2 separate regions of the Homo sapiens genome follow, and region 2 is linked to region 1. Evidence: fine-mapped expression QTL. A gene starts in region 1. The other region holds a variant in brackets. All regions are shown on one strand. Distances are between the middles of the regions. Region 1 holds the start of CACNA1A (calcium voltage-gated channel subunit alpha1 A). Region 2 overlaps CACNA1A (calcium voltage-gated channel subunit alpha1 A).

What was found.
Region 2: its variant is fine-mapped to the expression of CACNA1A in whole blood (TOPMed, PIP above 0.99).

Annotation. Positions count from the first base shown.
Region 1 is chr19:13,503,379-13,508,740 of GRCh38, reverse strand. It overlaps CACNA1A (calcium voltage-gated channel subunit alpha1 A), which reads left to right and starts at 2,262. Exons shown (of 47, transcript NM_001127222.2): 1 at 2,262-2,809. The coding sequence starts at 2,517. RefSeq lists an enhancer at 694-1,220.
Region 2 is chr19:13,204,040-13,209,355 of GRCh38, reverse strand. CACNA1A (calcium voltage-gated channel subunit alpha1 A) reads left to right here. Exons shown (of 47, transcript NM_001127222.2): 45 at 1-44; 46 at 347-600; 47 at 1,303-2,914. The coding sequence ends at 2,043. Among named protein-coding and RNA genes, the nearest start is that of IER2, 56 kb to the right of the region's middle. RefSeq lists enhancers at 1-540, 847-1,116 and silencers at 527-716, 797-846. The variant TAAC/C (reference allele first, on the strand shown) is at 2,677.

The DNA of each region.
Region 1 (5,362 bases):
TTGTTTTTGTTTTGTTTTGTTTTGTTTGACAGAGTCTCACTTTGTTGCCCAGGCTGGAGGGCAGTGGTTTGATCTTGGCTCACTGCAACATCCTGGACTCAAGGGATCTTCCCATCTCAGCCTCCTAAGTAGCTGGGACTAGGTTCACATCACCATGCCTGGTTAATTTTTATTTTAAAAAAGGTTTTTGGAGAGACAGGGTCTTGCTATATTGCCCAGGCTTGTCTCAAACCCCTGGCCTCAAGCAATCCTCATGCTCTGCCTCCCAAAGTGCTGGGATTACAGGCGCAGACACCGTGCCCTGCCAGATGAATCTTAAAGACATAATGTTGAACCGAAGAAACAAGAAACTGTAGAATATATACTATATGATTATTCCATTTATATAAAAGCCCAAAAGAAGCAAAGTAAAATTGTATTGGTTAGGAACGCATAATAAGGTAGTCAAACTTTTTTTAAAAAAGCAAGATATGAATACCATAAAGTCAGGTAGCGATTATTGCTGGAATAAGGGGCTGTGTAAGCGTGTTGGCAAAGGGGGTTCTGCAGAGGTGGTGATGTTCCATTTCTAGCCCTAGACTTGATTTCATGAGTGTTCATTTCAGACCAATTTCTTAACTCCGTACCTTTATGTTTTATGCATTTTTCTTTGTGCTTATTGAATTTCACCACACAAAAAGCAGAATGGGAAGTAATCAAAGTGGTTCTGGAGAGACGTGAGTATCAAGCAAACTATACCACCCAGAACCCCTATCCAGCCAACTAGGACCTGGTTAATTATTTCCTCCTGGGAGTTCAGACTTGTCACCTCTGGGGTCTCCAAGGTAGAATAAACCTTTAATTCCAACTTGCAGGAGTCCTTGTGATTTGAAACGTTCACAGAAGTAACCCCAAACCACTCTCTCCACTTTCAAAAATGGTCTTTTGCTAAACAGAGCAAATTTGTTTAGAGACTGACGAATCGCACCTCTAGACACAAATCCCCTTCTCTTTTCTGTCTTTTAAGTTTTTTTCCTGCCTCCATCCTGCCTTCTCCTTGCAAGATGCTGGGGAGCGTCCGGCTGTCTGCAACCGAAATGGAACGGGGTGGAAAACAGGCTTTCCTCCCAGGGGAGGAGGAAGCACCCCAATTCCCCCCTCCCTGCCTCCCAACCATGCGACGCTCCCCTCTCTCCCCCACAAACTCCGCTGAGCCCGGTACCCCCGCGCCTCCACGAGCCTCCACGATTGGTCGCGGGCCCTCATGTGTCGACACTCTGGGTGGGTCCTTCTACTGTTAAACTCATCAATTGCTCCCCTTTTCCGTTTGCTGGCCAGTGGTTCAGACCTTTGCGCCCATTTTTTTTTCCTCTTTACCTTCTTCTACCCGCAACCCTCCACACCAGTCTTATTTTAGCAAAACCTAGAGAAGGAGGAGGTGGAGGGATTTGGAGGGTGGAGAGGCATTGCCGCATCCAGGGGCAGCTATTGAGTGGCTAAGCGGAGGGCGCATACCTCTCTCTCTCTCTCTTTTCCCCCTGTTGGGAATTTTCAGGATTTCACTGCTGCAATTTAACCCCAAGATGAGGCACCATTGAGCGAAACGCTGTGCGCACATACACACTCACACTTCCTCCGGGAGCAGAAGAGGCAGCCGTTGGTGATTCAGGAAGAAAAAAAATTTTTTTTTTTTTTTTTAAACCTGGACCCTGCGGTGTGAAGACTCCTTAGGAACCCTCTGGAGCGTCTTACTCCCCTTCCCTCCTCTTTCCCTTCCCTTTCATCTTCTTTGTTTTTATTTTATTTTATTTTTGGAGCTACAGATCTTTCAGCATTTTTAAGGTCTAGGAACTCCAGCAAAACAGAAGGGCACTTAATTTTTTTTTTTTTTTTTTTTGCCCTCCCCACCCAGACCTGGGTTTCGTCTTTCTTTATTTTTAAATATATATATATTTTTTTATTTTTTATTTTTTATTTTTTTTTAATGGGCCGAGCGCACTCCTTTTGCAAGATGCCAGCCTGACCCGGACCTCGGAGGAATTTGAAGCTTCCACTGCGTCCCGGGGGGGGCGTCCTTTGCAAACCGTTCGCGTCTTAAAGGGGGTGTGCGTTGGGTGGATTTTTTTTTTTTAACTGTCTCTTTTTTTTTTTTTCCGGAGTGGGTGGACTGGGGATTGCCTGGATTCCTTCCTCGGTTATTTTTTGCCTCGCTTCTCTCTCCCCTCCCCCCTCCTCCCCGGGCCCCCGCGCCCCGCCCCCGCACCCTCCTCCCGCCCCTCCTTCTCCGGGGTCAGCCAGGAAGATGTCCCGAGCTGCTATCCCCGGCTCGGCCCGGGCAGCCGCCTTCTGAGCCCCCGACCCGAGGCGCCGAGCCGCCGCCGCCCGATGGGCTGGGCCGTGGAGCGTCTCCGCAGTCGTAGCTCCAGCCGCCGCGCTCCCAGCCCCGGCAGCCTCAGCATCAGCGGCGGCGGCGGCGGCGGCGGCGTCTTCCGCATCGTTCGCCGCAGCGTAACCCGGAGCCCTTTGCTCTTTGCAGAATGGCCCGCTTCGGAGACGAGATGCCGGCCCGCTACGGGGGAGGAGGCTCCGGGGCAGCCGCCGGGGTGGTCGTGGGCAGCGGAGGCGGGCGAGGAGCCGGGGGCAGCCGGCAGGGCGGGCAGCCCGGGGCGCAAAGGATGTACAAGCAGTCAATGGCGCAGAGAGCGCGGACCATGGCACTCTACAACCCCATCCCCGTCCGACAGAACTGCCTCACGGTTAACCGGTCTCTCTTCCTCTTCAGCGAAGACAACGTGGTGAGAAAATACGCCAAAAAGATCACCGAATGGCCATATCCTTTTGCCCGAACCCCAGCAGCAGCTGCGCCTCCCCCTCCTCCCTCCGCCTCCCCTCTTCCAGGCTGGGAGAGAGACCCGGGGGTTGATGGGAGGTGGGGAGGAGGGGGGTCTTCCAGGGGCTGGGAGAGGGGGCACCGGGAGGAGTGTGAAAGAATCTCTCCACCCCGAGCTGGGTTGAGCTACCCTGGAGGCTTGGGAATGGGTTTGTGGGGGGCTGGGGGGTGGGCAGCGGAGAGTGGATCCTTCCCAAGGACCGACTCTAGAATGAGATCTGGGGCCTGGGGTCGTGCAGGAGCCTTGGTGGGGGCTTTCGAGCCAAGTCCGGAGGGTTTGGAGTTCTACGGAGTGAGCTTGGAGCGGGCTCGGGCCTGGGCGCTTCTGGCCAGGGCAGGGGAACTATGGGGGCCTTGGTTGGGTTTTCTTGGCCGTCGCTCACTGGAGTCCACGCAGGGGAAGCTGGACAGCCTCTCCACTACTGCTTTCCCCAAGGTGGGGGGCCGCCGCACTTTTAGGGCAGGGCGCTTGGGGGCTCCCAGGGCTAAGAGCAAGAGGGAGTCCATGTGGCCTTCACACTGAGAAGCCAGCACTGGCCGAAGTGAGTACCCCAGGGTGGGCCGCTGTTCCTATCTGGAGAGGATAGTGATGGGCTGGGGGGCGCTTATGTTTCCCTCATGTGTGCAGGTCCCATTGCCTTTAACCGCTGATTGGGGAACCTCATCATCTTTGGGGGTGTCGAGAAAGAGATCCCACTTGCTTTATCTGGGCCCCTGGCCTGGGAAGACCTGATCTGGACACTTTCAGTAAGAAAGACAGGGCAACAGCAAATGAGGTGGTGGGTCCATTTTAGAGCACCATGTCCAGCTTTTCCTACCCCGAGTAGCCGAGAGGGAACACCAGGAGAATCAGCACCCATGTGGACATCTTAGGTAGGTAAATGCCTTTTAAATTTTTTTTTTTTTAATCAAAGATCCAGAGGAAAAAGGTGAAGCCCACATTTTCTTCTGTGGAGATGCTATCAAAATGCAGATCTTCTGTGTTTCTTTAAATCCCTGCCTGCTTGAAATAAACCTTGAGGAGGGCTTAACATCTATCGAGATGTAGGCAGGCAAGGGTGGGTAATTAGTCGGGCTTTCTAGCAGTTATCTAAGCATGACCCAGATTCCAGGAGGGGGGACACACCCTGCTGCCCAGGCTGGCTGGCCACTGTGCCATGCCCAGATGTGCCGCTTCTCCGCACAGTTCCAACCAGCTGCCCTCTGTGTAAAAATGAACGGGCTGGATGGGTCCCTGGGGCTCAGCGATGAGTCCCCTATCCCTTTTGTATGTGGTTTTGCAGTTATAGACTAAACGGGGCTGGGCCCTGTGTGGTCTCCGGGGGTTGCTGTTTGAGGAGCATGGCGGGTGGTAGAGGGACTCACTTCAGGGGGGTTCAAAATCGAGCCTGGCGCTTGGATCCTGGGTGCTGGGATTGCAACAGAGGGCACTGAGGTTTTGGAGTGTGTGAGTGGTCTACTTTGAGGGTGGGGAAAATTAAGAAGTTCAGCAGAGGTGCTTTTGAGGGGAGCATACCTCTAACTACGATGCCATCTCCGTTGGTGCCCAAAGCAGGTGCCAGGTCTTTGCTTCCTAAGTTTCAGACTCTTAAAGAGGCTGGTTCTTAAGGTTAGCAATTCCTCACCATCCCAGGCCCATTGAAGTGCTCAGGGGTGGCTTGATTACTCTGCCTATCAACAGAGTGAGGAGTGGGAGTGCCTTGCAGGAGGACAGGGTATTCATGGGTGCACACCCAGTTAGCTCCAGGAGTGAGAGGGCTTTGCTCGGCTGACAGGTTTCCTCATTGAAAATGGCTTTAGATCGCCTTCTGGAGCCTGGATTTGGAGACTTCTAAGAGGAAAGGAAGGAGGTGGGGAGCCCTTCTGCTGTGTCCTTAGCTTACCTCTGTCCAGCCTGAATCCTGCAGATTGGAGGGCTGTTGGGGGAGAGGGGGATTGCAGTGGCCCCTCGGAAGGGGGAATCGTGGGAGAGGGAGGCAGGTGAATTGCGAGTGTTGCTTGCCACTTCATCTATTCTCTGGCCAGCTCGCCCGGGGCTTTCTTGCTCTTATGATGAGTTTGTGCATTATGCTCTCTGCAGACTGTTTTTGTTCTCTTTGACCCGAGGTAACAAACACATTATACAGCCCTACTCTGGAAGGGAAAACTCCCCACCTCACAATCTGTCATCGAGCTGGGTCATCCAGGACTGAGCTTTCTCTGTCCTGGATGGAGCGGAGGGCGGTGGCGGGGTGGGTGGGAGGGTTGGAGATGAGAGGGGATGGACAGAGACCTGGGGAGGGAGGTAGTGAATAAAAGAATTCAGGCCAGTGTAAAGAGAAAGACACGTGGAATGTCAGAGTCACGATACCAGGGCAGAACATTCTACTTTTTAATCTAAATATTTCTGCCATTAAAAAAAAATGTTTCAGCATATCCTGAGAGTGAAAAAAAAAGTGTGTAGGTACTTAAATAAAGTCTAATATATGTACAGGCAAGTACATATATTCAGAT
Region 2 (5,316 bases), 300 kb after region 1:
CGCCTCTGAGCGCTCCCTGGGCCGCTACACCGATGTGGACACAGGTGGGCAGCCCTGTGGTGCTCAGGGACAAGCAGAACAGAGGAGAGGAGAGGGGAGGAGAAGGCAGGGCGGAGGAGACACTAAGGAAGAAGAAAGGGAGAGGCCTCCATGGAGAGGGGACAGAGGGGGCCAGGCAGCAGCTGCAGGAACCTGGGTACTACCCCCTCCCCCCAACCCACTGACCTGCCTCGGTTCAGGGGATCTCTAGGGCCCCCACACCTTCCAGGTGGCCTCCTGTGTGTGCATCTGCCCCACCTCTCCCTCACGACCACCTGTGTGTCTGTCTGACCCTCACCCGGCCCAGGCTTGGGGACAGACCTGAGCATGACCACCCAATCCGGGGACCTGCCGTCGAAGGAGCGGGACCAGGAGCGGGGCCGGCCCAAGGATCGGAAGCATCGACAGCACCACCACCACCACCACCACCACCACCATCCCCCGCCCCCCGACAAGGACCGCTATGCCCAGGAACGGCCGGACCACGGCCGGGCACGGGCTCGGGACCAGCGCTGGTCCCGCTCGCCCAGCGAGGGCCGAGAGCACATGGCGCACCGGCAGGTGGGTGCGGCTGCAAGTGACCCCAGGCTGGGCTCGGCCGGGAGGCGGGGAGGAGAGAAGGGGATACCCCATCCAACAGCCACTCTAGGCAAAGGTCCCCGGATCCCGGCTGTGACCACCTCCCATCCTGCCCCCAAGCCACCGGGGTGCCCGGCGGCCGGAGCGGACACGGATCCCCACCACACCAGCTGCCTATGCTGTCCCCCCAGCCCCCTTGCCCACCCGCCGCCCCCTCCCCGCCGCCCGCAGCTGCTTGCTCCTCGGTTGTGGATCATATTTGAGTTCTGGGCCGTGCCGCCCGACCTTTCACTTTCCTTTAACCCGGCTTCTGTTTTTGTTTCAATTATGATTTCTGTCCTCTGGACGCCTGTGAGTAATTTTTGAAACTTCTGCTATTTTTAACCCCGAAACTTACAAAACTCCATTTCTCATTTCTCTTTTCACTTTGTTGTGTTGGTTTTCGACTCCTCCCCTCCCTGTCTCACTCCCCCTCCTCCCCTCCCTCCTCCCTGTGGCTGTTGCTTTTTTCCATTCAATGTCCTGTGTCCCCCCTCTCCTCCTCCTCCTCCTCCTCCCCCTCCCCCTCCTCCCTCTCCTCCCGGCCCCTCTCCCTTCGCTCCCCTCTCTTCCTCCCAATCCCGTGTCTCCTTTGATTTTGTTGTATCTTTTTTTTTGATTTCCTTTGTTTCAATTTTCGTGTAGGGCAGTAGTTCCGTAAGTGGAAGCCCAGCCCCCTCAACATCTGGTACCAGCACTCCGCGGCGGGGCCGCCGCCAGCTCCCCCAGACCCCCTCCACCCCCCGGCCACACGTGTCCTATTCCCCTGTGATCCGTAAGGCCGGCGGCTCGGGGCCCCCGCAGCAGCAGCAGCAGCAGCAGCAGCAGCAGCAGCAGCAGGCGGTGGCCAGGCCGGGCCGGGCGGCCACCAGCGGCCCTCGGAGGTACCCAGGCCCCACGGCCGAGCCTCTGGCCGGAGATCGGCCGCCCACGGGGGGCCACAGCAGCGGCCGCTCGCCCAGGATGGAGAGGCGGGTCCCAGGCCCGGCCCGGAGCGAGTCCCCCAGGGCCTGTCGACACGGCGGGGCCCGGTGGCCGGCATCTGGCCCGCACGTGTCCGAGGGGCCCCCGGGTCCCCGGCACCATGGCTACTACCGGGGCTCCGACTACGACGAGGCCGATGGCCCGGGCAGCGGGGGCGGCGAGGAGGCCATGGCCGGGGCCTACGACGCGCCACCCCCCGTACGACACGCGTCCTCGGGCGCCACCGGGCGCTCGCCCAGGACTCCCCGGGCCTCGGGCCCGGCCTGCGCCTCGCCTTCTCGGCACGGCCGGCGACTCCCCAACGGCTACTACCCGGCGCACGGACTGGCCAGGCCCCGCGGGCCGGGCTCCAGGAAGGGCCTGCACGAACCCTACAGCGAGAGTGACGATGATTGGTGCTAAGCCCGGGCGAGGTGGCGCCCGCCCGGCCCCCCACGCACCCCACGCACACACCCCACCCGAGGAGCCGCGCAGAGGCCGCGGGGGCCCAGCACAGAGGGCCCGGGAGAGGGCCAGCCGGGAGACCCCAGACTCTGGAGAGGCCAGGGCTGGGCCACAAGGGTGTCCCGCAGAGACCCTCGGCCAAAAGAGACCCTCCTGGGCAGCCACGGCGCCCCCCAACCAGCCCCGATCCCCCCACCCACGACAGGGGCTCTCGGGTGGGAGGCAGGGAGCAGACAAACCACACAGCCAAGGGATTTGAATTAACTCAGCCATTTTTGGAGAACTTTGGGGAACATGAAAAAAAAAAAAAAAAAAAAAAAAAAAAACATTTTTAAAAGAAAAAACGGGGAGAAAAAAATAGCTTCTATTGATGAGTTTTATCATCTCAATTGAATCTTTCCTTTCCCTGATGAAGACAGCTGGTGGCCGAGTGCGGCAAAGAAGCCAGAAGGAACCAGAATCCCAGTGCCCTACACCCACCACCAGACACACTCACACCCACACACGTTCTCAGACACACACAAGAGTGCTTGCCGGTTATACCAAACCCTACTATTACTGCCTGCAGAAATCAATTTAAAAAAATAATAA[TAAC/C]AATAAACAATTTTAAAAAGGACAAAAAAATTAATGATTGAGAAAAGAGGCATTTTTTTCTGACATTTGGTCCTGCTTGAAACAACAAAAGAAGAAGAAAAACCCACCATCACCACCGATTCCTTTGCTTCTTTTTTCCTTTTTTCCTACCTTGTTTGAAAACCGTGGGCTTGGGACTGTGAATTATTGCATGACATTCAAAAAGAAAAAAAAAATAAAAAAAAGTTGAATCAAAGGGCTTTTGGATAGGAGTGGTCTTTGTCCCTTGGCTAGGTGCTGCCTGGGTGGGTCTCTCTTGGGGAATCATACAAAGAGGCACTTCTTTGTTAGCTCCTAGAAGCACTGTTTGAAAGCGACAAGGAGGCCGGGCATCATGCACGCCTGTAATCCCAGCACTTTGGGAGGCTAAGGCAGATGGATCACTTGAGGTCAGGAGTTCGAGACCAGCCCGACCAACATGGCAAAACCTCATCTCTACTAAAAATACAAAAAAAATTAGCCATGCGTGGTTGCACAAACTGTAATCCCAGCTACTCCGGAGGCTGAGGCATGAGAATCACCTGAGCCTGAGAGGCGGAGGTTAGCAGTGAGCCAAGATCCCACCACTGCACTCCAGCCTGAGTGACGGAATGAGACTCTTGTCTCAAAATAAAAAAAAAAAAGGCAGGGCGCGGTGGCTCACGCCTATAATCCCAGCACTTTGGGAGGCCGAGGTGGGTGGATCACATGAGGTCAGGAGTTCACAACCAGCCTGGCCAACATAGTGAAACGCCGTCTTTACTACAAATACAAAAATTAGCCACGCGTGGTGGTGGGTGCCTGTAATCCCAGCTACTCGGGAAGCTGAGGCAGGAGAATTGCTTGAACCCAGGAGGCGGAGGTTGCAGTGAACCAAGATCGTGCCACTGCACTCCAACCTGGGTGACAGAGCAAGACTCCATCTTAGATAATTAATAATAATAATTTGGTCTCGTGGACACCAACCCCCGCCCCCACGAAGTGTTTCAGCCATCCCCAGAGTCCAATACCCCTTTGAGAGCTTCTGTTCTCACAACAGTACCTGACCCATAGCAAGCTACTATTGACTATCACCATTACTACTGTAGCATTAAGGCAAACATTTTGAACAGGTCTTGTTCCAGACAACAGGCCCTGCTTGAGCTTACCTTGGGTAAGAAATCTGCAGACTCCAGATAGCAAGACAGGTGTAAGTCCTTCTAAAATAATGGTAAGCCAAATGTGGTGGCACACACCTGTAGTCCCAGCTGTTCAGGAGGCTGAGGCAGGAGGATCACTTGAGCCCACGAGGTCAAGACCAGCTATGATCACACCTGTGAATAACCATTGCATTCCAGCCTGGGTGACGTAGAAAGATCCCATCTCTAAAAAAATTAAAAGTAAAAATAAATAAATAAAATAATGGCATCTAGGAAAAGATCAGTCCAACGAGAAGTCAAAGTTTTGAGGTCGAGTGCGGTGTCTGACTCTTGTAATCTCAACACTTTGGGAGAATCACTTGAGGCCAGTAGTTCAAGACCAGCCTGGGCAACATAGCAAGACGCTGTCTCTAAAAAAAAAAGTTTGTTTTTTTTAAGGCTGGGTACAGAGGCTCACGCCTGTAATCCCAGCACTTTGGGAGGCCAAGGTGAGCAGATCACCAAGTCAGGAGTTTGAGACCAGCCTGGCCAACATAGTGAAACCCTGTCTCTACTAAAAATAAAAAAATTAGCCAGGTGTGGTGGTGCATGCCTATATTCCCAGATACTTGGCAGGCTGAGGCAGGAAAATCGCTTGAACCTGGGAGGCAGAGGTTGCAGTGAGCTGAGATTGCGTCACTGCACTGCAGCCTGGGCGACAGAGTGAGACTACGTCTCAAAAAAAAAAAAAAAAAAAAATGGAATGGAAGGGAGGGAGGGAGGGGTTTAACTTTCTAACCAGGCAATCTGGCAACCACCACAGGCTTCTAAACAAGCTGCCCATCCATTGCAGAGCTGGCCTCTGGTCCCCCTCCCATGGTGCTGGGGTTGAGTGTGTCCAGGAGCCACTGGAGTAAGCCAGGGTTTGTGCAATTCCCTCTGCTGTCAATGAGGCTGCAGCCATCTGTCCTCCCAGGAATGAAGTTCACTACCGAAGCCCCCCATGAGCCCTGAACTCAAAGGCCAAGTCTATGCCCGAGTGCCAAGAGGTAGACCCAAGGCCTCCACAGTGCACATCATCAGGCTAGAGTGTTAGTTGCCCAGGAGACACAGGGTGGGAAGATCAGGGGATGAGGAAGAGGGGCGGAGCTTGGCCTAGTCCCCAGTCTCACATACTCTCAGGCCATTGCTTGAGCCTCATCACCTGGAAGGTTGGAAGGGCATGATTGTCATAGAAATGCCCTGAGGTGACCGGGCGCGGTGGCTCAAGCCTGTAATCCCAGCACTTTGGGAGGCCGAGGCGGGCAGATCATGAGGTCAGGAGATCAAGACCATCCTGGCTAACACGGTGAAACCCCGTCTCTGCTAAAAATACAAAAAATCAGCCGGGCATAGTGGCAGGCGCCTGTAGTCCCAGCTACTCAGGAGGCTGAGGCAGGAGAATGGCGTGAACCCGGGAGGCAGAGCCTGCAGTGAGCCGAGATCATGCCACTGCACTCCA